Homo sapiens: one gene and its partners. The protein of the gene in region 3 interacts with the protein of the main gene of each other region in a pairwise test. Each region holds a gene or a part of one and is shown on either strand. Other genes may lie near its edges.

Region 1 (7,923 bases), on a different chromosome or scaffold from region 3:
AAAATTAACACTTATGATGAATAAAAGATCTCCTTCTTCCTCTGTGCTCCTGGCAGGCACAGTCAGGCCCATCTGTCTGCCCTTCTTTGATGAGGAGCTCACTCCAGCCACCCCACTCTGGATCATTGGATGGGGCTTTACGAAGCAGAATGGAGGTAAGTCCTGGGTGCAGGACCACAGGGCAGGAGATGCCCTTGTATGAGGGAGCAGCTTCCAGAAGTAATGGGAAGGAGGACCACCCTTCAGAGAAACCCATCCTGGAGGACCAAGCACCAAGGCGCCAGGCAGAAAGCAAAGTGGTTTGGCAATCCAGGGCTGGGGGATAGAAGGCAAGGATGGGAATGTGAGTGTTTTTACCCTCCCAGGGAAGATGTCTGACATACTGCTGCAGGCGTCAGTCCAGGTCATTGACAGCACACGGTGCAATGCAGACGATGCGTACCAGGGGGAAGTCACCGAGAAGATGATGTGTGCAGGCATCCCGGAAGGGGGTGTGGACACCTGCCAGGTGGGGCCTCCAAGAATCATGGGGAGTTCTAAGAATAGGGTTTAGGTCCTAGAGAGATGAGAAAACCCAGAGGCTGCATGCCCTACAGGAAGCCTTGCATATCATGGGCACTCAATGTGTGATGATGGGAGGAAGAGAGGGAGGGAAGGAAAGGATAGTCAGATAAAAGTGTACCAATAGATGAGTGGGTGGATGGATGGATGCAGACAAGCAGAGAGATTTCAAATGTCTCTTTCACATTCGAAGATGATGTTACTGGCCTGGCATGGTGGCTCACGCTTGTAATCCCAGCACTTTGGGAGGCTGAGGCGGGCAGGTGATTTGAGGTCAGGAATTCAAGACCAGCCTGGCCAACATGGTGAAATCCCATCTCTACTAAAAAGAATACAAAAATTAGCTGGGCGTGGTGGCACGTGCCTGTAATCCCAGCTACTTGGGAGGCTGAGGCAGGAGAATTGCTTGAACCCAGGAGGCAGAGGTTGCAGTAAGCTGAGATTGCGCCACTGCACTCCAGCCTGGGTGACCCAGCAAGACTCCATCTGAAAACAACAACAACAACAAAGATGACATTACTCATCCACCCCACCCACCCTTCTCACTAGCTACAGAATGATTAGCCCCTTGAGGTCAGGAATCCCAGGTCTATTTTCTCTGTGACTCTCCCCAAGCTGCTGAACTACACTAGGAAAGAATTACCGCCTGCAGAATGCTGGAAGCACATCTGTGTGTGCCCTCACCCCGGCCTCATTGGCCATCAGGACTGCTTAGCAATCCCTGTAGACCTTCTTCCTCCCCCATACTTCCAGAGGATCTTCTGAACTATTTTCTTTTTTTATTTTTTCTTTTATGTTTTTTAACAGAGACAGGGTCACTATGTTGCCCAGTCTGGTCTCAAACTCCTGGGTTCAAGGGATTCTCCCACCTCAGCTTTCCAAAATGCTGGGATTACAGGCATGAGCCATCGTGCTTGGCCTGAACCATTTTCATTAAAACCCCTACCCTACTCTCACCTCCATTTCCAGTCATTAAATTCCTTCATTTAAGAGGCATCTCTTAGTCATCGCATGTGTGCCATGAACATGGTAGTCTTTGGAGACCCCTCAGGGAGCTCACAGTGGTTGGGGGAAAGGGGGGCATTAAACAGACATTTAAGCTATAGTTTTGGGTTCAGAGGGAGGAAGCCCCAGGGGCTAAAACAGCTGATAAGGACTCCCAGATAAGTGCACTTTTCACTATCTGGCATTTTCTTGTTTTGTTATTTGCTTGTTCACTGTCTCTCACCCCATTTGATCCTAAGCTTTCTGAGGGCAGGGATCTTTGTTTTTTTTCATCAGTTGGATCCCAATTGCTTAGAACACTACCTGGCACAAAATAGGCACTCTATAAGTGATTACACAAATTTTGGAACGACTAGGTTAAACAATGATAACCAGGCTTTTTTTTTTTTTTTTGAGACTGAGTCTCACTCTGTTGCCCAGGCTAGAGTGAAGTGGTTTGATCTCGGCTCACTGCAGCCTCCGCCTCTGGGTTCGAATGATTCTCCACCTCAGCCTCCTGAGTAGCTGGGATTACAGGTGCCTGCCACTATGCCCAGCTAATTTTTGTATTTGTAGTAGAGACGGGTTTCACCATGTTGGCCAGGCTGGTCTTGAACTCCTGACCTCAAGTGATTCACCCGCCTCAGCCTCCCAAGGTGCTGGGATTACAGGTGTGAGCCACCGCTCCTGGCCAACAACCAGGCTTTTTTAAGACATCACTCAGAGCCTTTAATTTGCTAATGTGAGTTGTGAATCTCTGAGAGAAGGCTAACGGCATGCTTGCAACTTACTTGTCCACAGACAAGCCTTTCTGCCCCAGAAGAGAAGACCATTCTAGGGTGCTAATGAGCAAAGAGGGTGAGGGTGGAATATCGGAGAGCAGCAGGGAGTGCAGGGGAACAGATAGGCCAGTTCAGGGAGCAGAGAAGGAGAAGCCCCCCCACCTCACCTGCCCTCCCCAGCAGTCTCTGTTCTGGTCTCTCACAGGGTGACAGTGGTGGGCCCCTGATGTACCAATCTGACCAGTGGCATGTGGTGGGCATCGTTAGTTGGGGCTATGGCTGCGGGGGCCCGAGCACCCCAGGAGTATACACCAAGGTCTCAGCCTATCTCAACTGGATCTACAATGTCTGGAAGGTAAGGTACCTTTGCCCTACCCACTGTGCCTTCCCTCCAGTCCTCTACCTGGGGGGTGCCAATCCATCCTCAGGTTTGATTTAAATGGTTCTGACAACTCTTTACATCCCAAATAACTTTCCCTCCAAGCAAGGGACAGCCTGAGATTGCACTATTAAGGCTGAAATTCCTTAGGTCAGAGATTTCTGATAAATGCAAATACCTTAGGGAATAGAACACACCAAGCCTTTCTTTCTCTTTTCTGACAGAATGAGACTATCAGATCCTTTCTAGAGAGAAGATTCTGATAAGGAAGAGAGTGGAAAGGCTCATGAGACCTCCTGGCCCTCTGCAGGGTAGGGAGAGAAGCAAAGTGTTTCAGAAAAGGAAGACTCACGTTACACATGTCACCACTTTGTCCAGTTTCAGATAATCTGACTTTCTCTTCATCGGTCTCTCTTATTCTAGGCTGAGCTGTAATGCTGCTGCCCCTTTGCAGTGCTGGGAGCCGCTTCCTTCCTGCCCTGCCCACCTGGGGATCCCCCAAAGTCAGACACAGAGCAAGAGTCCCCTTGGGTACACCCCTCTGCCCACAGCCTCAGCATTTCTTGGAGCAGCAAAGGGCCTCAATTCCTATAAGAGACCCTCGCAGCCCAGAGGCGCCCAGAGGAAGTCAGCAGCCCTAGCTCGGCCACACTTGGTGCTCCCAGCATCCCAGGGAGAGACACAGCCCACTGAACAAGGTCTCAGGGGTATTGCTAAGCCAAGAAGGAACTTTCCCACACTACTGAATGGAAGCAGGCTGTCTTGTAAAAGCCCAGATCACTGTGGGCTGGAGAGGAGAAGGAAAGGGTCTGCGCCAGCCCTGTCCGTCTTCACCCATCCCCAAGCCTACTAGAGCAAGAAACCAGTTGTAATATAAAATGCACTGCCCTACTGTTGGTATGACTACCGTTACCTACTGTTGTCATTGTTATTACAGCTATGGCCACTATTATTAAAGAGCTGTGTAACATCTCTGGCATAGGCTAGCTGGAATGCTTGATAAGAACTGAGCTGGGATGATTGAACTTTCATTCTTTGGCTTGGGGAGAAAAGAAGTCCTGGGGAAGCAATTGAGTCTCAAAGTAGAGGCAGGGGAAAAAAGAGTTAGGGAGACCAGATCTGCTGAGTGGCAGCAAGAGTGAGCTGCAGATTACAGAAACCAGGGTGAGCAAGTTTGAGTCCCACACAGGGCCTTCTCCCTTTGCCTCTTTCCCTCCCTCCCTGCCTGTGATAATCAGCCAGGAGCCAGGGATAACCTATGACTTGGGAAAGAGATGAGTTAGGCAGTCAAGGGTGACATTCAATCAGGGATCCACAAGTGGCTGGAAAGAAATGCTGGTCCTGTGTCCTAACTTTTTCCGCCTGGAGAGCCCTCAGTGTGGCTTCTTACATTTAAAAAACAAAAAGGATCAGCTGCCAGGTGTGAGGCAGTCCCCAAGCTGAGTTGTGAGGATGTAAGCATGAATAAGTCCCTGCACTCAAAATGGTCAAAGAATTAAACCCCATGGACTTTTTTGGCATCTGTATGAAAGCTTGGGTTTTCTGAGGACTGTCTTGCTATAGTTAAGTCAGATCCTAGATGAAATATACTTGTTCATACTGTACTAGGTTCTTAGGAAACAACAGAATTCCTCAAATGCCAAAAACAAAGAAAATAGAAACCCAGAAAACAAAACAAAATAAAACAAAACCATCAGAACTGTGAGTGGAAACTAAGGTGATGATCTGGGAGCAATACACTAAAATCTTGGGTCGAGACCTATATGAAGGCTGGCAGTGGAGCTAAACCTGGACACACTGAAGACAAGGGAGCTGAACCAGGGCTCCTACATGAAGCAGGGATAACTGATGGCAGTAAATGTGGTCTCAAATTGCAGATGGTCTGGAGGAAAATTTCCCAAATTTAGAGCCTCAGGATTCCCAAAGATCCTCCAAATATGAGCTCACAATCAAAGATCAGAGACGTTGAAAAATAAAAAACACCTTAAGTGGGCAGCATAAAAAACAGCTAATTTAGAACCCCAAAGGCTTCAGATGTCAGAATATTAGAGACTTATGATAATAAGCAATATTTGCAGAGTATTTGTATGTGCCAGACACTATTGTAAGTGCTTCATCATGTACTGATTCATTTAATACTCACAGAAATCTGTGAGATGGGTATTATTCTTATCCTCACTCTATGGATTAAAAAAACTAAGGCACAAAGTGGTTAAGCTCCTTGCCTGAGATTATAGACTGTAAGTTGAACGTGAGCACTTGGAATACAGAGTTCATGCTGTAAACTACCACACTATAGGGCCTCCAATATGATAATTTATAAAATATTTGAATAAAAAATGAATACTAGTTCCACATTTTAAAATCATGTTTAACTGTGGTCAAATGCACATAACACAAGTTGCCATCTTCACCATTTTTAGGTGTATAGTTCAGTGGTGTTATGTACATTCACACTATTGTGCAGTCATCACCACCATCCATCTCCAGAACAGAAACTCAGTACCCATCAAACAACTCTCCATTTCCCCCTCCTCCCAATCTCTGGCAACCACCATTGTGCTTTCAGTCTCTGTGAACTGGATTACTCTGGGTACCTCATTTAAGTGAAGTCATGCAGTATTGGTCTTTTTGTACTTGTTTTATTTCACTTCACATTGTGTCTTCAAGTTTCACCCATGTTGTAGCATGTGTCAGAATTTCTTCCCTTTTTAGACTAAATAATATTCTATTGTTTATACGAACATTCAGGTTACTTCTATCTTTTGGCTATTGTGAATTATGCTGCTGTGAACATGGGTGTACAAGTATCTCTTTGAGGCCCTGCTTTCAATTCTCTTGGGTATATTCCCAGAAGTGGAATTGCTGGATCATATGGTAATTCTATTTTGAATTTTTTGAGGAACTGATATATTGCTTTCCATAGAGACTGCACCATTTTACATTCCCATCAACAGTTTGCAGGAGTTACTATTTCTCCATATCCCCCCTAACACTTGCTATTTTCTGTTAAAAATGGATATCTTAATAATCAAGCAAAAATAACAGGCAGATTTGAAAAAGAACTGAATACAGCTTTTAGAAATAAAAACTATAATTATAAAAATAAAAAACTAAGTGGATGGGGTAAATAACAATTAAAACACCAATTAAGAGAGAACAAATGAACTGGAAGATAAATTGAAGAAGTGACTAGGCTTAACAGCAGAGAGAGATAAGGAGATTAAAAATATGAAAACAAGGCCAGGAGCAATGAAGCCTAGAATGGTAAATTCTAACATATCCAGAATCCCAGAAAGAGAGAATCAAGACAATGAGAGAGAGACAGTACCAAAGAGATAAGAGCTGAGAATGTTCCAGAATTGATAAAAGGTGTGAATCCACAGAACATACACCACCATAGTGTACACGCATACAACCAAGGTGGAAAAATTAGAATAAATCCACACCTATGTACATTATAATGAAACTGCAGAACACCAAAGACAAAAAGAAACTCCTTATAGCAGCAGAGAGAAAACCCAGACCACCCACAGTACCACAAATCTACCACAATTAGACTGACAACAGGCTTTCCCACAGCAATAAAGGAGCTAGAAGTCAGTGGAAGTATATCTCCAGCATGCCAAAAGATAACAATCAATCAGGGATTGTGAACCCTACAAAACTATCTTTCAAGAATAAAGGCATTTTCAAGAAAACAAAAACAGACTTTACCATCAACAAACCTTCTCTAAAAGAATATATAAAGCATTTACTTTAGGAAGAAGGAAAATGATCCTAAAAGGAAGAACCAAGAAGCAAGTAGCAATAGTGAGGCAATTGTGAAAATGTAGGTAAGTCTAAACACACTCTGTCTACTTCTTCTTCTTCTTCTTCTTCTTCTTCTTCTTATTTTGAGACTGAGTCTTGCCCTGTCACCCAGACTGGAGTGCAGTGGCAGGATCTTGGCTCACTGCTATCTCCACCTCCCAGGTTCAAGTGATTCTTCTGCCTCAGCCTCCCGAGTAGCTGGGATTACATGCACATGCCACCATATCCGGCTAATTTTTGAATTTTTAGTAGAGATGGGGTTTCACTGTGTTGGCCAGGCCGGTCTCAAACTCCCGACCTCAAGTGATCCCCCCGCCTCGGCCTCCCAAAGTGCTGGGATTACAGGCGTGTCTACATATTATTAAAATAACAATAATATTTATTTTGTGGGTTAATTTTTTTTGAAACAGATATTGAATTTATTGGTTGGCTATGAGTAGAAAAATACATCAGTAAAGAAAAAAGACCCTGTATATAAATATAATACTAGCTAGTTAAAATTTGACCAAGAAGTTTCCATTGTGGGTTAATTTTTAAAGGCCTAACTGAAATATGGAGTAACCACAGCATGCAGCATGTAAATTAAAGGGGATAGCTGGAGTTAAAATATTCTGAAGTTCTTAAATTGTCCAAAAGGAGGGTTAAATATTAATGTTATGTTACATAAAATGTTTGTACTATGTTCTAGATGGTTAGTTAAAAGAGTAATCACCAAAAGAATGGAAATAAAAGTGTGTCACTTCCAAAACAATTGAAAGTAGCAATTGATGAATAAAAAACAAATACATCAAGCAAGTACAAAAGAGAAAGGAGGGAAAGGAAGAGCACTAAGGAGGGAAAAGCACAGAAAAATGGAACAAATAGAATATACAAAGTAGGATAGTGAAAAAAGTACTAATAATCGCAATAAATATTAAACTCACCAAATAATATACAGAGATAGGCAAATTGGATAAAAATGTAAGATCAAGCTATATGTTATTTGTAACAGACATACACAAAACACCAGGTTACAGAACCATTAAAACTGAAAAAGTGGAGAAAGGTACAGACAGCAAGCATTTAATCAAATTTAAGCTGGGGTAGCTATATAATATTTTTCTAAATAAGGATTTAGGACAAAAAGACAAAACTGACTTTAGGATAAAGAGGGTCACTACATAATCACGAAAGTTTCAATTCACCAGTAAGCTATAATAAGTGAAAACTTGCAAACAAAGAGAAGAAAATAGAAAATTAAAAAAATCATCCTTTGTCACCACTGGAGTTGGCAATCACACCAGGCTCTTACTCTGAAATAATATTTAAAGAGGAAAAGTTAGCACTATTCTGCTTTGCCATAGAAATCTACTTCCAGGTAACAGGGTGGCTCCAGGTGGTGAGGGAAAGTATAGCTAATCAATA
Region 2 (8,136 bases), on a different chromosome or scaffold from region 3:
TCCTTAAAGACAAATTATAAACTGATATCTTTGCATCATGAAATGTACCCAAACTAGTGCCTTGTTCACTAAGAAGGTGCTTAATAAATACTTGCTGAATGAATGTGTGAATGAATTCATGAAAAAGTGTGAAGATTTGTAGTCAAAATATTTTGTAGGAGGGCAAGTCTATGAAATGTTATTTTTTACACAAGTAAATAAAGATAACAGTTAAATCAATTACAAAATTTCAAAGAAAAAATTTACATCACTACATGTATTTATAAAAAGCCATTACTTATAATTTTTAATGGTATCTGGAAAGTCATCCATTTCTACTTACCCACTGCTGAAACCTAACCATATTAATCAATTGCTGAGCTCCAGGAGATAACTTTGACCCCATGGACTCCATTATGGTTTGGATCCTGTCTAGTTCTATTCTTGATTTTACAGCAGGAGAGCCTGTTGAATAATTTGCTGAAACTGCTCTCATGTGTATCACAACTTTACTGATGAACACACACTGTCTTTCACCAAAGGAGCGCAACTATTACAATACAAAGTTCAGGAAAATAAATAATAATATTAAACAATATTCACTATTTAAGGTCACTCCTTTGTATTATCAACAAGAGTAAAGTATTCAGGAAAACAAATATAAACTTTAAATATATTTTCAAGTTTTCCCTAATACAGTAATGGTCAGAGGTTTCAATTTATTATGAAACTCAGAAGAACAATTTATATAAGACAATGTCATTTTCAAACTAAAAAAATATACTAAATATATGAAAGAAGGTAAAATTAAAGTTTCATTTATTTAAGCAACTCAGAATAGACTATGCCAATCTGAGACTTTAACACACAGCTGCTTACTATAATATTCTTTAATACAAAATAAGGGTGTTCAGAAGCCCATCCAAAGTGTTTACTGAATTACTAAATATAAATGAGCCATTTAGAATTATAAGGCAGGGTCAAGATGGTCTCACGTAACCCACTGGTTTACACATTTAAAAAGATGAAGTTAGAGGTAATTTTCTAACTTGTCAAAGGATTACCCAATTAGTAAAAGTCAGGCTTAGAACCTAGCTCTCCTGGCTGTTATAACAGTGCCCTCTCCAATGCTTTATGCTGCCTCTCTTCATTCATGTTTATGAACCAAAAGACATTTCATGTGTGGCACCAAAAACAGTATCAAAATGGAAAGGAAACAGGATTTAGAATGAGATAAACCAGAGTTCAGTTATGAGTCTGCTCTGTATAGCCTGTATGATCCTGGACAAATGCCAAAACACAAATCAGAATTAACATGAGGGAGGATCATATCAGTGATTTCACATGGTGGTTGGGATTATGTGCTAAAATTTCCAATGAGTAAGTATTTGAAAATATTCATCAGTAACTATTTTTGTAACTTTCATATTCTGCTGCCTCAGAATAAGCTTTAGTAGGCTTGGGATTTTCCTAAATGAAATGACCCTTTGCACTCACATATACTTCCATAGAATAGTTACAAAAAATACTCATCTTCAGAGAGACACACAGAACCATATGTAACCCAAAGACACAGGTCAATTCAGACCCATGGCACCAAAGATGTGACCATCCTTCACAATTAAGAAAACACTGTTAAATTTAAACAGTCGCCTCTCATCCTCTCTCTTATCCCCTTTCTGCTTCTTAATCCTTATAGCCTTTCTCACCACCAAACAAAACACAATTTTATTCAGAGTGTGCTCATTACCTGTCTCATCCCATTTGAATATAAGCAACACAAGGGTAGTTGCTCCATTTTATTACTGCTGCTTCCTAAATGCCTACTACAGTCTGTATCTGGTATCAGTAGGCACTCAAATATTTGTTGAATAAATCACTTTATTTAAATGACTTTGGAAGCGATTAATATATACTACCTAAAACAATGTCTTGGAACAATCTGATCTGTAAGTTTGTTACTTGCCTGCTATAAAAATCATTAACTTTTTCCTTATTCTTTTTATTTTTTTCTCTTTTTTGAGACAGAGTCTCCTTATGCCACCCAGGCTGGTCTCAAACTCCTGGGCTCAAGGGATCACCCTGCCTCGGCCTCCCAAAGTGCTAGGATTACAGGCATGAGCCACCATGCCCGGCCAACTTTTTCCTTAAAGTAAGTCTCACAACCCTGTATAATGTGGAGACAAAAAGAATACAATGCTTTATTTTCTTTAGTCTTCTAATTTACCCATGAGGTAGGTCCAAAGAAATGTAGAGATTTTCCCAAGGTCACTCAGGCAGTAACTAACAGAACTGCATTAATACCTTGGGCTATTTGTAGCTCAGTACTCTTAACTCTGATGACATCACTAAAGTTCACCTCAACAATATTTTTCATATTCAGGGTACCAGTCCAAATAGCTTTTAGGTGCTTTTCTCTGCAACTTCTCTAATTCTTGTCTTTTTAAACATAATGGGGACAAAACGTGGTTTTCTTGGCACCATAGTTTCATATAAAGATAAACAAGGACTAAGTTGGACTAACTGTATGAACAAACCAACAGTACATAAGTATATTATACATACATTTGCAATTGTCAAATTAGTTAAAATTTAGTGATGACCTACCTTTATTTTACAGGCATGAGTGGAGGATGCCAATATTAAGTAATTTTTGTAGAAAATAATTTCGCGTTTACTGAAAATAGAATAAAAATTATTTTTTCACTTATATAAATTATCAGTTTAAACAGCTGCAGTAAAAAAAAATTGTTTCCAGGCCATTACTTAAATCCTGAGATTCAGTTTGCCTGGTAGGGGACAAACAGTTGAGATCCCTTCTCAAGTGACCTGGTCAATAACCCTGTGTCGTGTATTTATTATTTCCAATATGCACAATATGTAAAATAGTTGACGTTTTGATTTATATTAAGGCGCGATTAGTGTAGAATGTTCCTATAAGGGACTAGGGAAAAGATCAAACTATAACACATTGAATATGGACTAAATAGGCTGGTGTGGCACCACCTTGGGCTTGTAGGTTCCTTAAAAAATATGTGATCAAAGTTTCAGACTGACTGTCAAATTAATTTCTGGAAAACAGACCATTGTGAGTTTATGGAGAGAGTCAAGAAGCAGCAATAAGGACTGCACTCTTGCCTGGACACTTTAACTAGTATGACCCTCTCCAGGCTCACCTCTCCTTTATTAGCTCTAAATTTCTGCATTCCTAAAAATGAGGAAGCTGAACTAGATTGCCTAGAAGATGCTTTAATGGTCTAACCTTCTATGCCATAGTAGGTTTTTATCTTCTCTTCTCTAATGTAAACATCAATGTCAGAGAGTCAATCAATATTGCAAAAGGTGAACAGAATAAAGACACCAATTCAGGAGAACACTTTCCCGTGTACAAGTCACACAACTGTCATCCAAGACAGTACAAACATTCTTGCCCCTACTGGTTCCACAGTACTCCTCTCCTAAGTACACTTCCATATTTCTTGCTGAACTTAAAATGCCAATAGAAGCGATTTCTTCACCTCCATCAGGGCCACACCTCAGGTAAAGGAAGCAGGGGTTTTCATCTTGGTTGTTCAATCTTCTCTTCTAAATCACCAGATTCTGGCTGAGAAGAAAACAGGTGAAAACATCACACAGTATAGTTTCTGAACATGGCTCAAAACCCACTTGTTAGGCCATGAGGTTTATTCTAACAAATGCTCAACACAGAATTCATAAGGAAATGGAGGCATCACACATCAGGGCTTCCCCCTCTATTTTTTCCTCAATCATCAACGTTCTACTCAGTCCCCTGCAATTGATTCTCGGATACATTACTGGACACCTACTGTGTGCACAGGAGTAGGAGCAGAACACAATAGAAGACAAAGTGTATCTTTTTCGAAATTAAGTCGACGGCGGTCGTCTATAGCTGGACTTTTTACACAGCCTGTTTTGGTGGAGAGGAGGTGGCTTGTTTGAGGGTAGATGGGCGGACTGACTTTGATAGCAGCCCTGACGACCCGTCACGCCTGACGGGGACGTTTATGAAATTCCAAGTCCTGGTCACCTTCCCCCGCTCATGCCTCGGGGCCTCGGGTACTTCCCGGCCAGACCTACCCCGCCTCCGCCCACCCCGGTCCTCGCCTCCACCTCGCAGCCCCGCTCCCCCGCAGAGACCCGACACCAACTGCTCTCCTGGATCCCGGACTCAGACCCTCACGTTCCCCGAGGAGCGCGGCAGTCGCCGAGCGCAGCGACCCGGTCGCCGGCGGCCCGGCGCACCGTGGCGCAGGTGGCGCCAGAAGCTCCTCCCAGTCGAAGTCGCGGGCGCAGACACGAGCCCGGGTGAGGAGGCTGTGAGTTAGGGCCCCGCCTGCGGCATCCCAGGAAGAGGCAAGCGTGGGGCGGCGGGTGAGGCCCCCGTCCTCGGACCGCGTGTCCACTGCGCCGCCTCCTGCCAGGCCTCTCTTCCAGTGCTTAAGTGTCGGCCAGTGCAGCGCAGAAACGGGCAGGCAGAGCGACTCCCGGCTTACATCATTTCAAATGCCCGCCGCTTCTGGATTTGGTGAGAACCTGCACCAGAGAAACGCATGCGCATAAGCCAACTGGACTCGAGAGGCGTTCAAACTTTGCTCAGGAAGCGCTAAAGAGCGGAGCATGCGCACTGGCAGGCCCTCGCTCAGCCTTTGGAGACCATGCGCAGGCGCGGTGCACTGTGCGCGGGCACCACGGCGGTTTTTCGACGCTGGCGGTGGACGCAGGCAGCATGGACCACGGTTGCTGGGCGGATGGGGAGCGTCTATGGTCAGGTAGGTGTCGTCTCTTCGCTCTACGCGATGTGCAGGACCGACTCCTGACCTCGTTCTTTCCCGAGTGGACGCCAGGGCCTTTTCTGCCTCCACTCCGTCGGGTCTGCAGCATTTGTGGCAGCGAACGCGGCGGAAGCGCTGTCCATTCGGGTTAATTTTACTCCGAACTCTCCCTGCCTCTCTCATACACATTCTCGCGTTAGAGGGGAGTTGAGGTAGATATTGAACGGCGTTAGTGGTGGACGCTGGGCCACACGGGCCTTCCCCAGGTGCCATCTCATTTGATGCTCCCTGATCCTACGGCGTTGCCAGGACTATGCTGGATGCCCTCGTGACAGAAATCAGAAGGTTGAGAAAGATCCCAGGTGTTTGGATGGAGCGGTCGCCTGAGGGAGTTTTCCAGATGCCCCATGGAATAGGAAGTAGATCTTGCCTCTTTCTTCCTTTTGTACTCCAGATGCATTCTAAGTTGTGTACACCAGACTTCCTGTTCTTTATGCCCAGCCCATTGTAGTCATAAGTTAACTTTGATACATGTCATCATAATTGGACAGTCTAAAGGAAAATAGGCTTTTTAGAATTACCTATCTGAAACTTCATGAGCAAGATCAATACTATAAGCTGGATTTTGACTTCCTTAAATAAGGCAGAAAGCCTACAGCATTTTGTCGTCTCCCCTTTCTTTCAATCTCGTATGTTCAGTATTATCACCCAGTCTTGTTTTATTTTTGGTTTTTAAAGAAAAACTTCCCTGTCTTTCTCCATCTCTGCCTCTCTGTTTTGAAATACTAGCTTTCATCGGAACAATTCCAGGAGTTTCTTTACTGGTTGATAGTCATTATCTCCTCACCTGCGTTTCATTTTCTGCACTGCCCTCTAATCTTTTATCAATTGTCCTGATGCTTGATGCTTTCTGACTGAATCACCATCACCATTACTTTTTTTTTTCTTTTGAGATGGAGTTTCAGTCTGTCACCCAGGCTGGAGTACAGTGGTGTGATCTCGGCTCCTGCAACTTCCGCCTCTTGGGTTCAAGCGATTCTCCTGCCTCAGCCTTCTGAGTAGCTGGGACTACAGGCGTGCACCACCAGGCCCAGCTAATTTTTGTATTTTTAGGAGAGACAGGGTTTTGCCATGTTGGCCAGGCTGGTCTCAAACTCCTGGCTTCAAGTGATCCGCCCGCCTCGGCTCCCAAAAGTGCTGGGATTACAAGCGTGAGCCACCGCACCTGGCCACCATTACTTCTTAACAGGCATACAAAGCCCTTTATCCTTGACTTCTGCCTGCCTCCTAGACCCCCCAGCTTTTGTACATGCTTTTCCCTCTACCTAGAATGCCCCTTCTTTTGGATAGGAAAAATCCTGTTCATCATTTAGTGCCAAGCACAGCCCTCCACACTGTGAGAGAATTTGTCAGTAATTTCTCTCTGCTACACTTAGAGTTTTTAGATACTATAATTCTCTTCTGGTATGGAGCTTTACCAAATAATTCTCACATTTGTTTTCCCAACCATCTGTACAGTTGTTGAAAATAGGAATTGTTTTGTGCCTAGTAGAGATTGAGTATAGGTTTGTTGTATGGAATTGATAGAGATAGCAATAGGGGTTGTTTGGGAACTCTATCACAGTATAACAGGAGTAGAAAGAGGTGAAACTGGCAAATTCAATCTTATTTTCAAAGCTGAAAAAACTTTGCAAAAGTTAGTGAGAAAATTATGACAGTGAAAGAGATCTGAGCTAATCCATCCCCAGTCTTGCCTTGATTATTCTTGGGCTTTTGGGACATTTAGGCTATAGTTTAAATTATCATAGGCCTTCCCCCAAACTCAACTGCTTTTGCATCAGGCTGGCAGGAGGAGAGGAGCCTGGGTCCTGCTAAGGTGCAGACATGAACTATTATCAGTTATTATTCAGAAGGTTATAAGATATGCAACTTCCCCAATTATTCCTGCAGATAACACCACTATTGTAGACTGGCCTTTTGAGATATCTTTTCAGGGTTTTTTTGCATGTCTGACACCCACCATTCCTACAGCCCCACCCAGAAGTGACTCAATGTGCAAGAGGACAGCTTCACCCCTTGTGATTTCATCTCTGCCCCAACTAATCAGCAGCAAGCCTAGCGACCTCCACCACTTCCCCCAAACTGCCTCTGAAAAATCCCTAACCTATAAGCTTTGGATGAGAATTGTGGCTGGCCTTATGTCTATTAAACTCTTTCTTTACTACAATGCCATGATCTTTGTGTAGCAGGCAGGAAGAACCCTTCAGATGGTTACAAAGCCAGGGTGTTGTGCTGGTGCCTAGGTGACCTCAATTTTAATGTAAATTACTCTTGTCGTGAATGGCAAATGGTATTTTTTGCTTTATTTTTATTTTTTCACTTGAAATAAAGAATAAGGCATATCTTTGAAATCTTTCCACCAATATCACAATGTATTTTTTTGGCTTGACTGTTTTAAAGAGAAGTTTATTATATATAACTTGTAGAATTTAGAGTAGAATCATATATGTATCTACTGTTGCTAACAGAGTGCCTTTGCATAGTGGCAATCAAACACTTTAGTCCCAGGACCTTTTACCCTCAAAATATTGAATATTCTAGAAAGCTTTTGTTTTTGTGTGCTCTTTTCTTATTTTTTAACACTTCTGGTTTCATCTGTGACACGTAAACCACTTAGAAGTCAATCACAACTGTCCTCACAAGAAAAAAGCTGAACAAATGGAACATTAACAGCCTTTAAAATATCCATCAGATAATGGAGGTCACAAAGCAAATGGCCACCCCCAAACTGGGTAGGCAAATACAGAAAATCACAACTGATATCAGCATGCTAGGAACAGAAATCCTCATGAGGCAGCAAATGGTAGGAACACTTAAAATGGTCATTGATGACTTGCTGGATGCTGAGTGTGAGTTAGCTTGACAGTTAGAAACTCCTGGGAGACCACTCATATGGTGCCCTTACACTTTTGGGAGTTTTACTTTTCAGAGCTGCAGCAGATTCTTAGGACAAGGATTGGATTAAAACTCCCTCCTGCTTTGTGCAGAAGGAGGGGGCAAAGTAACCTTTTTGAAAACTGCCCTCAGCATTTCCCTAACAAAAGCCTTCTCTCAAGGGAAAGTACTTTACCAGAGCCTTATCTGTTCTAGGGAAAGGGCAATTAGAAGATTCCAGCCCCCTCTAGCCTTCCCGTTGTTAGTGGTAGTGAATCTGCAGGGGGCTGCAGCAACCTCAATTCTTGTCAGAAGAAAGAATTCGACCAAGGGTCATAAGGAAGAGTGAGAGACCAAGGCAAGTTTTAGGGCAAAAGGAAAAATTTATTTAAAAGCTTTAGAGGTGGAACAAAAGGAAGTAAAAGTACAC
Region 3 (7,923 bases):
ATTCACAGAATCTTACCAGTGTAAGAGGAATGGAAAAGGTAACTTATCAAGGTAACAATCACTTCGTGGCCAGTTTTTTCGGCTCACTGCAACTACCCCTCCTGGGTTCAAGCGATTCTCCTGCCTCAGCCTCCCAAGTAGCTGGGACTACAGGCGTGCACCACCATGCCCAGCTAATTTTTTTTTTGTATTTTTAGTAAAGACAGGGTTTCACCATGTGGGCCAGGCTGGTCTCATGGCAAGTTTTCTTTGTGTTGTCATGTTATTATCAATTAATAGGAATTTATATTTCAGTTCTGTTAGGTGGATAAACACTATTTTGCATACCTAAATGTTTCATTTATATCAGCACTGGCCAATAAAAATATACTATAAGCAGGCCGGGTGCAGTGGCTCACGCCTGTAATCCCAACTTTTGGGAGGCCAACACTTTGGGAGGACACAGGGTCAGGAGATCGAGACCATCCTGGCTAACCTGGTGAAATCCCGTCTCTACTAAAAATACAAAAAATTAGCCGGGCGTGGCGGGGGCGCCTGTAGTCCCAGCTACTTGGGAGGCTGAGGCAGGAGAATGGCACGAACCCGGGAGGTGGAGCTTGCAGTGAGCCGAGATCTCGCCACTGCACTCCAGCCTTGGTGACAGAGCAAGACTCTGTCTCAAAAAAAAAAAAAAAAAAAAAAAAAAAAAAATATATATATATATATATATATTACAAGCCACAAGCCACATATGTACTTTTAAATGTCCTAGTAGCCATATTAGAAAACAAAAGTAAAAAGGAATAGATGAAATTAATTTTAATGATTTTTTTAAACCCAAGATATCCAAAATATTATCATTTTAACATATAATTAAAAATTTATTGAGATGTTTTACATTGTTTTTTTTTTTCTTGACGCTGTCTTGGAAATCTAGAGTGTATTTTACATTTACATTACATCTAATTCAGTCTAGCCACATTTCACATGCTCATTTTTTTGTGTGTGGTTTTATGGAGCAGAGAGTTTAATAGGCAAGAAAGAAAAGAGAAGGCAGAAGAAAATGGCTCCCCTGTACAGAGACGCGGGGGTGGGGCGCTCCAAAGCCAAAAGAGGAGGTCCCTAAGTATGGTAGACACCAGCCAGGAATATATGCAGTGTCTGGAGGAGGGGATGTCTGATTTGCATAGGGTCACATGCTCATTTTTATGGCTACTGTATTGGTCAGTACAGATTTAGATGGGGATTTGCTCTGAACAAGTTGGTGATTGATGGTGTTCATATTTTAATTGAATTTTTCCTGGGTTCTGCTGTACACTTGTATGTGTGTTAGTTTCATGTGCAATGCTTGTGTCACTTTTAAAACCCAGATATATGGCATAACATGAGAATGAAAAATGGACCAGAAAAATAGTTTGGCAATGTAGTCATGTTTGTTCCTATTAAATGTTCCCTATTGACCACTCTATCTCTTTTAATTATAACAAGAATCTGCCCTGCCAGCATGCCCAGTTACGCTGGGAAAACTTCTGCCTCATTTACTCTGGCTGATTCTCATCCACTTATGGGTCAGTGGTTCATTTTCTAGAGGTCACCAGCATTCATACCTAGCATACAATTTCATTCATTATAATGAAGGAATGTTTTCCCTTCAAAGAGACACAACTAGTGGGCTTAATTTTTCTTGATATGTCACCTGTAAAATTTTAATGATGATGTTTAAACTCTAAATGTAGCCATCAAGACAAAAACTGCAAATTTTGAGCCTCAGTGTGTGTGGGTGGGTTTCTGTTTCGGTAATTTGAAACATTGCAGAATATCATCAAAATATGATACCCAAGAATCATATGGTATCAATCATTCCTAGATATACTGATCTATTCATTGCCAAGATAGTTCAATGAGCTGGCAAAAACATATGGAATTATTTTCTTAAAATGTGAAAAATAAAATTTAACCAATCATGTATCACAGCTTGCAACTTTAGTCATACTTTGAAAAGCATTTTAATTTGGACCTCATGATTGAAAATTTATAAAAAGCTGAACAGAAATTAGTTCACTTCATATTTTAGAAAAGCAGAGTTTCTTTACTAAATGAGGCATTTGACCCAAATTGGAGAGAAAATGTTGAAACTACTTCTGTGAGCAAGCAGGTGGCTTCTCAAACACATGTTGGGATGAAATGGTTGGGCCTCAGGGTCTCAGTGCCTGTCACTGAGAGTTGGCACTCTCTATCTCCATGGTCTCCTCCAAGTGTGACTCTTGTCTCTTGCTGACCTGACCTGCCCCAAGTGACTCACTGGTCATGACCCTGCACACCTTGCGTCTCTCCTATCACCCTGCCGATGGCAGAGCTACAAAGGTCTTTGATGTAGCTCTGTCTGATATCCTGTGTTTCCCCCTATGGTCTGTGTGGAAGCAGGTATGGGGGTGTGTAAAGGGGAAGCCTATGAAGTTCATCTGCAAAGACTACCTGGTTAGGGGAGGAGAGGAAGAAGCTATATGCACCATTTCACCAGCAAGCATGGGCTCTTCTGCCTTTTAGCTTAGGGGTCCTGTTGTCTAGTCTCACTCACCTATTAAAACAGTCCAGCAAATAGAGGTTTTGTTTACCTCCCATTAAAAAAAAAGCAATTAATGGAATAGAAGATAATAATGTATGAGAAGCACTATTGTGAAAGAAAAACCTTCAACTTCTCTCAGCCAAATAATTGCTTCCTCCTCTGTCCTTCCCAGACCTTGATGTTTGCTCTATTATTTCAAAACAACTATATTATAAATATTTGAGAATGTGTATTTCCCTGCAAGGAGATCTTAATCCCCAAGAAGGCAGGAGCTGTGTATTATTCATCCCAGTGCTCCTTCAAACCAGGGCCTCAGACAGTGCATGGCCCAAAGAGGTACTTAATAAACGTTTGGTAAACTGACACTATTGAAATTAAGCAACCTGGATTTGAGGTGGGTCTCTGCCACTCACAAGAGATTACGCTTTGAGAAAATTCCATCACTTCATTGATTTTCAGTTCTTGCATCTGTATATGGGAGACGATACTAGGTGATTTCTGACATCTCTCACCGTTTAAATGCTCTGTGATCTATACAACGAGGGGCTCGCTGTTCTAGACAAGTTCCTTCCAGCTTTACAGTTGCATAACCCTTCTAATCTTAGTCACATGATGACTCCACTGACAGATTTTTGGCCACCATCATTAGACATGCTGAGTTACGTGTGCCTTTGCTCTGATCCTCAAAACTCATGATTTTTAAAGTTTTCTGAAATATCTACCATTTATCAGGATCCAGATGGATTTCATGACCAAAGTGGATGTTTCTTTTCTCTCCCATTACAATCTTTTACTTTTTGTGTGGGAAATTGCATGTTAAAGAAAGGGAAATTGAAGAATGGGATGCTTTGGAATTCTGGCAAGATGGATTAGTGGGTTCCAGAAAGTAGGGGCAGCCACAAATACCGAAATAAATGAGATCGTATTATTGAGAAAGCACAAATGGAAGAAGGTCAAAAGCAAGAAGAAGCTGACATCCTGCTTCCTCCAATTTTTGCTTTCTCTGTTTTTCCAAGAAACTCCTCTTCCAAGCCTTGCTGAAAAACTCCACTTTCCTAAATCTAACTTCTTAAACTGATAATGGCAAGAAGTTAGGAATGACCAATATGTTTAACACTCCAAGAGTATTTGTTTTGTTTTGTTTTGAGACTGGGTCTCACTCTGTCGTCCAGCCTGGAGTGCAGTGGTGTGATCACAGCTCACTGCAGCCTTGACCTCTCCTGCCCAAGGAATCCTCCCACCTCAGCCTCCTGAGTAGAAGGGACCACAGGCATGTGCCACTACACCTGGCTAACTTTTAAAAAATTTTTTTGTAGAGATGGGGTTGCCCAGGCAGGTCTCAAACTGCTGGGCTCAAGCAATCCTCCTGCATTGGCCTCCCAAAGTGCTGGAATTATGGGCATAAGCCACTACGCCTGACCTCTCCAAGGGCATTCTTTACCCAGAAGAGGAACTTGGCAGAACTTATCCTCCAATTGGTGAGGAATATGGAGAAAATGACTTTAAGCAAAGGAACTTCTGGTTCTGCCTACCTAATCCAGAAAAAGAAGTTTTATTTCTCCCTTCCCCTAGTAACTATCTTCCCATATTCACATAAAAAAGTACAGAATCAACATTGTTCAAGAATTATAATTTTACTTGTAAGCACATGTGCACACGCACACCCATATACCTTCCTTCCCTTTAAATCATCCCACACCCTAATAGTAGTAAAATCATTGACCCGAGCATACCTGGGAGAGGAAGAGGAGTCTGACAGGGGCAGGTTCTAAGTGGCACTCCTGGAACTTAACCCTGGTGTATATGAACTTTACCTATTGAAGGATGACTCCTCAACTGTTCTCACAATTTGCTGCTCTGCTTTCTTTTCTAATTTCTGAAGGTGACTCATCTTCCCCAAGGACTTTCAGACTTCTCAGAAGAAAAAAATATTGGGTGGGTCTCTGCCACTGGCAAAAGATTAGACTTTGAGAATCATAAAAGTATATCAGTATATACTCATTAATATTGAATTACTATAATTAATATTATGATATTGATATAATGATAGAATGATATTGATAAAAGCAATATTCAATAATGAATATTATTTCAGCTGCCCACTTATTGGGTGCCTCATAGGTGCCAGGCATTTTGTATGTATTATCTACAACCCTTACATGGGACATATTATGATGCTGTTTCTCTTGAAGAAATATGGAAACTGGAAACAGAGAGGTCACCACAATTTTCCAAAGTCACATAGCTAATAGGTAGCAGACTTGGGATTCAAATTCATATGCATATGGTAAATCATGCTCTTCCTCTGCTACATTTTGCCCCCTTAGAATATGAAAAAGGGATACAAAGAGATGAAGAAAATATGTAAGATTATCCTTCAATTTCACTATCTTTTTTAAAGTTTTTTTTATTATACTTTAAATTCTGAAATACATGTGCAGAACATGCAGGTTTGTTACATAGGTATACACGTGCCATGATGGTTTGTTGCACCCATCAACCTGTCATCTACATTAGGTATTTTTCCTAATGCTATCCCTCCCCTAGTCCCCCACCCACCGACAAGCCCCGGTGTGTGATATTCCCCTCCCTGTGTCCATGTGTTCTCATTGTTCAACTCCCACTTATGAGTGAGAACATGCGGTGTTTGGTTTTCTGTTCCTGCGTCAGTTTGCTGAGAATGATGGTTTCCAGCTTCATTCATGTTCCTGCAAAAGGCATGAACTCATTTTATGGCTGCATACCATTCTATGGTATACATGTGCCACATTTTCTTAATCTAGTCTATCATTGATGGGCATTTGGCTTAGTTCCAAGTCCTTGCTATTGTGAACAGTGCTGCAATAAACATATGTGGGCATATGTCTTTATAGTAGAATGATTTATAATCCTTTGGGTATAGACCCAGTAATGGGATTGCTGGGTCAAATGGCATTTCTGGTTCTAGGTCCTTCAGGAATTGCCACACTGTCTTCCACAATAGCTGAACTAGTTTACACTCCCACCAACAGTGTAAAAGCGTTCCTATTTCTCCACATCCTCTCCAACATCTGTTGCTTCCTGACTTTTTAATGATTGCCATTCTAATTGGAGTGAGATGGTATCTCAGTGTGGTTTTGATTAGCATTTCTTTAATGACAAGTGATGATGAGCTTTTTTTCATGTTTGTTGGCCGTATAAATGTCTTCTTTTGAGAAGTGTCCGTTCATATCCTTTGCCCACTTTTTAACGGGGTTTTTTCTTGTAAATTTGTTTAACTTCCTTGTAGATTCTGGATATTAGTCCTTTGTCAGATGGGTAGATTGCAAAAATTTTCTTCCATTCTGCAGGTTGCCCGTTCACTCTGATAATAGTTTCTTTTGCTGCGCAGAAGTTTTTTTAGTTTAATTAGATCCCATTTGTCAATTTTGGCTTTTGTTGCCATTGCTTTTGGTGTTTAGTCATGAAGTCTTTGCCCACGCCTATGTCCTGAATGGTAATGCCTAGGTTTTCTTCTAGGATTTTTATGGTTTTAGGTCTTATGTTTAAATCTTTAATCCATCTTGAGTTAATTTTTGTATAAGGTATAAGGAAGGGGTCCAGTTTAGTTTTCTGCATATGGCTAGCCAGTTTTCCCAACACCATTTATTAAATAGGGAATCCTTTCCCCGTTGCTTGTTTTTGTCAGGTTTGTCAAAGAGCAGATGGTTGTAGATGTGTGGCATTATTTCTGAGGCCTCTGTTCTGTTTCATTGGTCTCTGTATCTGTTTTGATACAAGTACCATGCTGTTTTGGTTACTGTAGACTTGTAGTATAATTTGAAGTCAGGTAGCGTAATACCTCCAGTTTTGTTCTTTTTGCTTAGGATTGTCTTGACTATTCAGGCTCTTTTTTGGTTCCATATGAAATTTAAAGTAGTTTTTTCTAATTCTGTGAAGAAAGTCAATGGTAGCTTGATGGGAAAAGCATTGAATCTATAAGTTACTTTGGGCAGTATGGCCATTTTCATGATATTAATTCTTCCTATCCGTGAGCATGGAATGTTTTTCCATTTGTTTGTGTCCTTTCTTATTTCCTTGAGCAGTAGTTTGTAGTTCTCCTTGAAGAGGTCCATCACATCCCTTGTAAGTTGTATTCCTAGGTATTTTGTTCTCTTTGTAGCAATTGTGAATGGAAGTTCACTCATAAGTTTGCTCTCTGTTTGTCTGTTATTGGTGTATAGGAATGCTTGTGATTTTTGCACATTGATTTTGTATCCTGAGACTTTGCCGAAGTTGCTTATCAGCTTAAGGAGATTTTGGGCTGAGACGACAGGGTTTTCTAAATATACAATCATCTCATCTGCAAACAGAGACAATTTGACTTCCTCTCTTCCTATTTGAATACGCTTTATTTCTTTCTCTTGCCTGTTTGCCCTGGCCAGAACTTCCAATACTGTGTTGAATAGGAGTGTTCACCACCTATTTTAAGAATAGTATTGAAGCCTCACAAAAGCTGGTTCTCATGTAACCATCTGAGAATATTTGGCCTTATGACTTGAATTCATTCATTGCCTTTTTATTTCACATTTTAGTGATCCTGATGTCTAAATCTTAATCTTTGATCCTTGCAAGGTAAAATAGCCAAGTCAAGCCTGTTTAATAATATTGGTTGAGGAAGTCACATGCTTATGATCAATCTTTGGGTTATGTAATTATATTACCTTAATGTTGGCAGTTTAGGTGTAAGGCAGAGATATCTGATCACATGTGTGGTTAGCTAATTTAAGATCACTGCCAACTAAAATCTTCATGGTATGATCTTCAAAGTTAGCTACTTTGACCACAGCAATGATTTCACCACAGCAATTAACAAAATGGCAGACTCTTTCCTGAGGTGGCATGAACAGTTTTAAAACAAAGTCAAGGACCAAAAGAAAAGCAGGCACATGGCATTTGATTCATTTCAAAAACTAGTATTGTATTAAGAGCCAAGGGGATAGAATTGTAGCATCAATTAAAATCTTGTTTGAAAAAAAATAAAAACAAACGTCCATTTTTATCTCTCAAATATATTAGGGTTTTCATAAAGTTATAGGTGTATTTTTAAAAAAACAAAACTCATATACATTAGACTGAAAAATTTGCCTGTCATCTCATCATGCAGCTAAATGCAATTGTCTATGGCGAGATACACTCTTATTAGAGGTATGATAGCACTAACTAATAGCAAACTTTGTACCTGGTAGTCTAATTTATGCAGGGTTCATATTTCGCTCCCTCTCAGCATGCTGTAACTGTGGCAAAGCCATTCTCAGGAGTTATTACCCCAACATAATCATACCCCTGTGGATTAGGAGCAGTTAAATGGGTCCTGTTATCAGAGACACATATGTGCCACAGCCGCTGTCATCCCTAAG
Region 4 (8,047 bases), on a different chromosome or scaffold from region 3:
AGGCTGGTCTCGAACTCCTGACGTCGTGGTCCGCCCTCCTCGTCCTCCCAAAGTGTTGGGATTATAGGGGTGAGCCACCGCGCCCAGCTCAGGTAATGTTTTTATAGCAGTGTGAAAATGGACTAATATAGTACCCTGGCATAAGAGTTTTGAGGAGACATAATCATTCAGACCATAACACCCATGATAACTCTGATCCTCCAGTTCCATGAGCCACAGAATCCTACTCATTATTTAAGCCAGTTTGAGATGTTCTTTTCTGTTACTTATAACTGAAAGAGACCAACTGACAAATGTATACACTGTCTTCAGAGTCTAGATGTGGAAAGAAGTATTTCCTCTTCTGCTGGAGTCAAATTATCTTCCAGGCCTTGGTTTTTTGTTTCCCATCTAAAGATCAGTCTTTTCTCCTAAATGACTGACACTGAATAGCCATCCTTTCAGGAGAGAGTCCATTTCAGACCCACAGGAAGTATGACCTTAGTCTCAAGACACCTTTATCAAAATACAACAGTTCTAATAGCTGCCTAAGACTTATTCAGATGAATCTTTTTGTTATACAACCACATAAGCATATGGAGAAAGAGAATATTTTGGGAAGTACCTGTTTATGCAACATGTTTTAGCCTTTCAGATAGTTCCTGTGGTACACATTTGGCTTGTACACTCAAAAGATGGACGTGAATACCACTCTATCAGAGTAAGTTCATGAAGCAGCCCTGAGAGAGAATAAACTAGAACCCATGGGGCGTAGCGTGAAGGACAGCCTGGATTGTTCCTTTCTCTTAATAGGCTTGTACCAACTGGACTGCATTTTCTGTCTAGTTTTAGGTGAAGTAGATCTTTCAGAACCTGTCCTGGCCCAAACCTGAAAATGGTCCTGAAGTCACAATGTCTCCAGAATCTAGGAGTGCCTCTCTGAAGTGCTTGGGTAACAGGAATTTAACAAAACATATGCTTCAGTAGCTACATGGTAGAATACCAATTGAATTAGAAAATGTGTGGTTTTTTTTTTTTTTTTTTGAGACTTAGTCTCACTCTGTCGCCCAGGCTGGAGTGCAGTGGTGCAATCTCGGCTCACTGCAAGCTCTGACTCCCAGATTCAAGCGATTCTCCTGCTTCAGCCTCTTGAGTAGCTGCGATTACAGGTGAGCGCCACCATGCCTGGCTAATTTTTGTATTTTTAGTAGAGACGGGGTTTCACCATGTTTGCCAGGCTGGTCTCGAATGCCTGACCTCATGGTCTGTCCGCCTCGGCCTCCCAAAGTGCTGGGATTACAGGCTTGAGCCACCGCACCCGGCCATGTGTGGTTTTTTTTTTTAAAGGCTGATTTACAATTCTACTAAATACTTAAATCAGTACATTTGGAATTGACAGCGAAATGTTGACATCAGCAACTTAATCCCCGTATCTTTCAAATGCCTTTTTTTTTTTTTTTTTTGAGACGGAGTCTTGTTCTGTCGCCCAGGCTGGAGTGCAGTGGCGTGATCTTGGCTCACTGCAACCTCTGCCTCTCGGATTCAAGTGATTCTCCTGCCTCAGCCTCCTGAGTAGTTGGGATTACAGGCATGTATCACCATGCCCAGCTAATTGTTTTTTCTTTTTAGTTGAGACGGAATTTTACCATGTTGACCAGGCTGATCTGGAACTCCTGACCTCAGGTGATCCAACCGCCTCTGGTTCCCAAAGTGCTGGGATTACAGGTGTGAGGCACTGTGCTCGGCCAAATGCCCATATTTTTGAAAGCATAACTAAATACATGTTTGACTCTTTGTGGAATAGAGGTTTATAGACTGAGAGAAGCAAATTGTGCTATGGTTTGAATGTGTCCCCAAAAAGTTCATGTGTTTGAAACTTAATTACTATTGTAATCGTGTTGAGAGGTAGAACCTTGAAGATGTGATTGGGTCATGAGGGCTCCACCCTCACGAATGGATTAATGCTGTTATTGTGGGAGTGGGTTAGTTATCTTGGGATTGGGCTCTTGGTAAAAGGATAGCGTCAGCCTGATTTTCTCCTTCTGTCTTGTATGCTCGTTGGCCCCTGTCTGTCTTGTTTTCTACCATGGGATGACACAGCATGAAAATCCTTACAAGATGCCAGCACCATGCTCTTGGAGTTCCCGGCTTCCAGAACTGTGGACCAAATAAAACACTATTGTTTATAAATTGCCTGTTCTGTGTTATTCTGTTATAGCAGTAGAAAAGGACTTCAGACAAGCTGCATTAACATAAGTCTCCACTACTAAAAAAGCAACTTAAAGCATGTGCATCCCAACGGTAGGTGAACAGTAATGTCTTCCTTCATATATGGAGGTAATCATTTTTCTACAGATATTATTCTGTAACAAAGCTTAAAAAAATCCTGGGAAACCTTAAAATATTAGTACTTTAAAAAGCAATGGCCTGTCTGTGCCAGGGCAGCATGTGGTCCATGCTGATCGACAGAGACACTCAGGCTGTGCCCTCAGGATGACCGAGTGGGAGACAGCAGCACCAGCAGTGGCAGAGACCCCTTGACATCAAGCTCTCTGGGAAGTGGAGCACTGATGATATGCAGATCAATGGCATTTCCCTGCAGGATTACACTGCAGTGAAGGAGAAGTATGCCAAGTACCTGCCTCACAGTGCTGGGTGGTATGCAGCCAAATGCTTCCGCAAAGCTCAGTGCCCCATTGTGGAGCCCCTCACTAACTCCATGATGATGCACGGCTGCAACAACAGCAACAAGCTCATGATCATGTGCATCATCAAGCATGCCTTCGATTTCATCCACCTGCTCACAGGCGAGAACCCTCTCCAGGTCCTGGTGAACGCCATCATCAACAGTGGTCCCTGGGAGGACTCCACATGCATTGGGCGAGCAGGGACTGTGAGACAACAGGCTGTGGACATGTCCCCACTGCACTGTGTGAATCAGGTCGTCTGGCTGCTGTGCACAGGCACTCGTGAGGCTGCCTTCTGGAACATCAAGACCATTGCTGAGTGCCTGGCGGATGAGCTCATCAATGCCACCAAGGCCTCCTCCAGCTCCTATGCCATCAACAAGAAGGATGAGCTGGAGTGTGGGGACAAGTCCAACCGCTGATTTTCCTGGCTGCTGCCTAATAAACCAGTCTGCCCTTTGGGATGCCTCCCCCACCCCCCCAAAAAAAGTGATGAGATTTGGAAACTTCTAATTGTCCCCTAATATCTAGTTTTCCTTCCTTAGTACTGAAACCCCATTTTCCAGCCTTCTTTGCAATTTGGTGTAGTCAAGTGACTATTTTACTAGCAGAATGAAAACAAAAATGGTACATGCAACCCCCGCCCCTTTCAAAAGGTTCTTAAAGAGAGGAGAGTGTTCCCTTCTGTATCCTCTCTTCTGGTGGAATGCCAGCATTGTGACATATTTCAAAAGTAAATTATTCAGCACATATTTATTGAACACCTAGATCCTAGCCCATGTATAAGAGCTATAGGAGAACATTATCCAGGATGGCATTTTTGGTGATAATTCCATGATACAAAACCTTTTACTTCATTATGCCTCAAGTAAAATGCTTTTTAGATTTCCACTGATAATAACTCTACTTGGCTGGGCACAGTGGCCCACGCTTGTAATCCCAGCATTTTGGGAGGCAGAGGCGGGTGGATCACCTGAGGTCAGGAGTTCAGGATCAGCCAGGTGAAATCCCGTCTCTACTAAAAATACACAAATTAGCCAAGCATGGTGGTGCGCACCTGTAATCCCAGCTACTCGGAAGGCTGAGGTGGGAGGATTGATTGAGCGTGGGAGGTAAGAGGCTGCAGTGAGCCAAGATCACACCACTGCACTCCACCCTGGACAACAGAGCAAGACCCTGTCTCAAAACAAACAAACAAACCACCCAAAAAACAAAGCTCGACTTTCCCCCAAACAACTAAATGGTTATAGGCATTTCTGTAGGAAATTTAGACGGGGCTTCCAAACGCTGTTAAAGTTATGTTGAAAATCCAAGAGGCTGAAAGATATCTGACTATAAGAAAGACGAAAAAAAAAAAAAAAGACAAAAATCTACGTGAATAGACGGGAGAGCGCCGAGCGAAATCAGAAGACTAGTTGTATTGTGAGGATCACCTCGGGTAACCAGCACTCGCTGGGTAGCCCTGGTTTACTAACTTCAACTTTCTGGGGCTCCATTTCTGAATTGAGGGGATTAGAAAAAGGCATCTCTAAAGACCCTCCGTTCCCGAGAACCCTCCCGGAGCACCTTCCCTACTCTGGGCAGCTCGCAGACAGACAAGACTGATCGGCCATAGGCGAAGGGAAACCCTGGTCCCCCGGGTCTCGAGCTCCGTCCGCACGTAATCTCACGGTACTGCACTTCAAGTCAGCGTGCAGAAACGCAGCAGTGGGAGCCCGGCGGCGGCCGCCCACCGGCAGGGGACAGGAGAGGCCCGTCCCGCTCTGCCCGGAACCGTAGATAGCTGGGTCTGAACTCCGGCTCCGGGAGGCCTGCAGAGCAGCCCACCCCGTCCCTCGGAGCTCGCCCTGCCCCCGGCCGGCCACTTGCTGCACGCCGATTGGTCGCGAGGAGCGCCCGGCGTCCCGCTGCGCCCAGCCAACGCCCTCTCCCCGCCCCCTCGCGTCCCGCCCCGCCCCCGGCCGGCCACTTGCTGCGCTCCGATTGGTCGCTGCGGTGCACACGGCGCCTCGCCCCGCCTCACCGGCGCTCTATCCTCGCGTCTGCTCCCAGCTCCGGGCTCCCGGGGCTGAGGTGGAGCCGCGGGACGCCGGCAGGGTTGTGGCGCAGCAGTCTCCTTCCTGCGCGCGCGCCTGAAGTCGGCGTGGGCGTTTGAGGAAGCTGGGTGAGTCCTGTCTGTGGGTCTCCGGCGCCAGGCAACCGTAGAGGGCTCGCGCCCGCCGCCCGCGCGTAAGGAGGCTCCCTCGTCGGGCCCTGTCCGGCCCGGCCTTCTGGGGGCTGTGGGGCCGTCCAGCCGGGTTTTCCCTGCGTTCGGCGCCGGCCTGCAGACTCGGGCCCGCGGAGCCCCCGCCGCCCCTTCTTGCCCCTGCCCGCGTCCCTTCGGGCCGACCGTGACCGTGGCGCCGCCGCGACCCGCAAGCAGCCCGGGGAGGCTGCCCTGCCGCGCTGTCACGCCGTCAGGTTGCGTTCCTGGGGAGGGCTGGAGAGGCTCCATCTCGTGCCTTTCACCTTCTCGCGCGGCGGGCACGGAGGCGACGGTTTTCGGGACGCCCTGCTGCGGCCGCGACGCCCTCCCGAGGCCGGAGCGAGGGCCCCGGGGCGGCTCCAGCCCTTCTTCGCCCCTCCCGTTTGCCCCGAACCATTGCTAGGAGCCTGTGTTTTCTGCACTTTTCTGATTTCATTCTTACGAGAGTCAAGTACAGAGGCGGGAGGGGAAAGGGAAGGGGAACAACATTCTTTCGAGAATTATAAACCTTGAGCTCCGTTAAATAAGTAGCAGCAGAGCATTGTCACTGGAGCAGTGGTAGTCGCGGGTAGGACCGTTTCGGTTTTTAGCCAATAGGCTGGTTAAAGGTACTTAAAACAGTAAGTTGGAAGGTGCTGAAATTCTAAGGTAAATACGTGACCTTTCAAAACCAAAGCAGTGAGACGGGCTAGGCTGGGCTGCTCCCCGCTGCGCGTGCCTGGGTCGGGGGGTGCGGAGGGGCAGGGGGCGGAGGCCTCGGACGGGACGGGGTGGGAGGGAAGTGGCATCCGCATCGTCTTACATCGCGCTGTAAGACCCGATTTTCTCTTTTCGGAGGATCCCATCTCCCTTCTCAGACTCTTCATCCTACCTGCACTGTGGATCCCTTGACACTTCAGAGGCTCTGAACTCTCAGGCCGGTCACACTTTTTCATCATTTTGTTTCTTGTCTTTTAAACCTGCATGCATTTCAAACGTAGAGCAAACATTAAACTTTTTTTTTAAACTGAAGATAGTGGTGCAAGACTTTGTTATTGAAATGCAAACCAAAAGTTATCTTGAATATTTATCGCGCTGGAAAAGCAGGTTTAATTAGAGTGAGGTGGGGACGTATATTTCTTCTTCCGGAGACACAGCCTTCCCACTCACCACCCCAATCCCTCCTCTCTGTCAACTAGGGTTACAGCAGCCTTACACTGGCTAGTCTTTTCTGAATTCTGAATTCACTTCTGGGGGCCAAGGTAAAGAATTTATCGTATTTTATCCTCATTTTCCTTTTCTGTTTTTTTTGAGACAGAGTCTCCCTCGTTGACCAGGCTACAAGTACAGTGGCCCGATCTCTGCTCACTGCAGCCTGCACCTCTAGGGTTAAAGGGATTTTACAGCCTCAGCCTCCCGAGTAGCTGGGATCACAGGCGCCTGCCACCATGCCTGGCTAATTTTTATATTCTTAGTAGAGAGAGAGTTTCACCATGTTGGCCAGGCTGGTCTTGAACTCCTGACCTCAAGTGATCCGCTTGCCTCGGTCTCTGAAAGTACTGGGATTACAGGTGTGGGCACCGCGCCTGGCCTTTTAAAGTGTATTATTATTATTTTTAAATTTATTTATTTATTTATTTTTTGAGACAGAGTCTTGCTCTGTCTCCCAGGCTGGAGTGCAGTGGCAAGATCTCGGCTCACTGCAAGCTCCACGTCCTGGGTTCACGCCATTCTCCTGCCTCAGCCTCCCTAGTAGTTGGGACTACAGGCGCCCACCACCACGCCCGGCTAATTTTTTGTATTTTTAGTAAAGACGGGTTTTCACCGTGTTAGCCAGGATGGTCTCGATCTCCTGACCTCGTGATCCACCTGCCTCAGCCTCCCAAAGTGCTGGGATTACAGGCGTGAGCCACTGTGCCCGGCCTAAAGTTTATTTTTAACTTATGTATATATATATATAATTTTTGAGGCCGAGTTTTGCTCTTGTTGCCCAGGCTGGAGTGCAATGGCGCTATCGTGGCTCACTGCAACCTCCGCCTCCCAGGTTTAAACGATTCTCCTGTCTCAGCCTCCCAAGTAAACTGGGATTACAGGCGCCCGCCGCCACGCCCAGCTAATTTTTGTATTTTTAGTAGAGACTCGAACTCCTGACCTCAGGTAACCCCCCCCCGCCTCGGCCTCCCAAAGTGCTGGGATTACAGACGTGAGCCACCGTACCTAGCCCGTTTTACTTTTTAAATGATTAAAGTAACATTCAGGTTGTTTAAAACATTTAAACATGACAGAAGAATATCAAGTAAAATTCAGACAGCGCAGAGGTATGTCAAGTTAGAATTCCTTGTTTGTTCACTCTTTACATCCTCAATTCCATTCCCTAGGAGGGTATTATATTATAATATTGCTCGGCAACTGATGATAATATAAGGACACATTTCCTTCATAAGCACGTGGAGACCTACCTCATTTCCTCCCAACCCCACCCCTCACTTTGGAGACCGGGTCTCACTGTGTTGCCCAGGCTGGAGTGCAGTGGTTCCCTCACGGCTTGCTGCAGCCTTGGGCTCAAACGATCCTCCCACCTCAGCCTCCTGAGAAGCTGAGACTATAGGCGAGTGCCACCATGCCTAATTTTTGTAATTTTTGTAGAGACGGGTTTCTCATATTGCCCAGGCTGGTCTTGAATTCCTGAACTCAAGCCATCCACCTGCCTCAGCCTCTCAAAGTGCTGGGATTACAGGTGTGAGCCATCCTGCCCAGCCAACTTGCCTCATTTTCAGAATGTTGCATGGTATACCGTTGTTTGGATGTACCCTAATATACATTTTTTGGTTCCTTATTGATGGACATTTTGACTGTTTCTGGGTTTTAGCCATTAAAAGCTTTGCTTTATGAAAATCTTTTTGTCGTTCTAGGGTAAGTTTCAAGTAGATAATATAAACAGATGATTGTACTTTGATATAATTTTATTTCACAAGGAATCTTTTTAAACTTAAAGTTGTTTTTTTTTTTTTTTTTTTGAGATGGAGTCTCACTCTGTCGCCCAGGCTGGAGTGCAGTGGTGCGATCTCGGCTCACTGCAAGCTCCACCTCCCGGGTTCACACCATTCTCCTGCCTCAGCCTCCCGAGAAGCTGGGACTACAGGCACCCTCCACCACG

The links.
Region 1: the proteins of CLRN1 (region 3) and TMPRSS4 interact in binary tests that used the Homo sapiens proteins (3 or more experiments, as listed by UniProt).
Region 2: the proteins of CLRN1 (region 3) and FAM24B interact in binary tests that used the Homo sapiens proteins (3 or more experiments, as listed by UniProt).
Region 4: the proteins of CLRN1 (region 3) and TMEM50B interact in binary tests that used the Homo sapiens proteins (3 or more experiments, as listed by UniProt).

Annotation. Positions count from the first base shown.
Region 1 is NC_000011.10:118,114,773-118,122,695, forward strand, and holds the end of TMPRSS4 (transmembrane protease serine 4), read left to right. Parts: intron 1-56; coding exon 57-155; intron 156-365; coding exon 366-508; intron 509-2,532; coding exon 2,533-2,682; intron 2,683-3,129; coding exon 3,130-3,141; 3' UTR 3,142-7,118; downstream 7,119-7,923. UniProt on the Homo sapiens protein: Plasma membrane-anchored serine protease that directly induces processing of pro-uPA/PLAU into the active form through proteolytic activity.
Region 2 is NC_000010.11:122,876,118-122,884,253, reverse strand, and holds the start of FAM24B (protein FAM24B precursor), read left to right. Parts: upstream 1-4,672; 5' UTR 4,673-4,769; intron 4,770-8,136.
Region 3 is NC_000003.12:150,962,081-150,970,003, reverse strand, and holds part of CLRN1 (clarin-1), read left to right. Parts: intron 1-7,923. UniProt on the Homo sapiens protein: May have a role in the excitatory ribbon synapse junctions between hair cells and cochlear ganglion cells and presumably also in analogous synapses within the retina.
Region 4 is NC_000021.9:33,476,621-33,484,667, reverse strand, and holds the start of TMEM50B (transmembrane protein 50B), read left to right. Parts: upstream 1-4,693; 5' UTR 4,694-4,830; intron 4,831-8,047.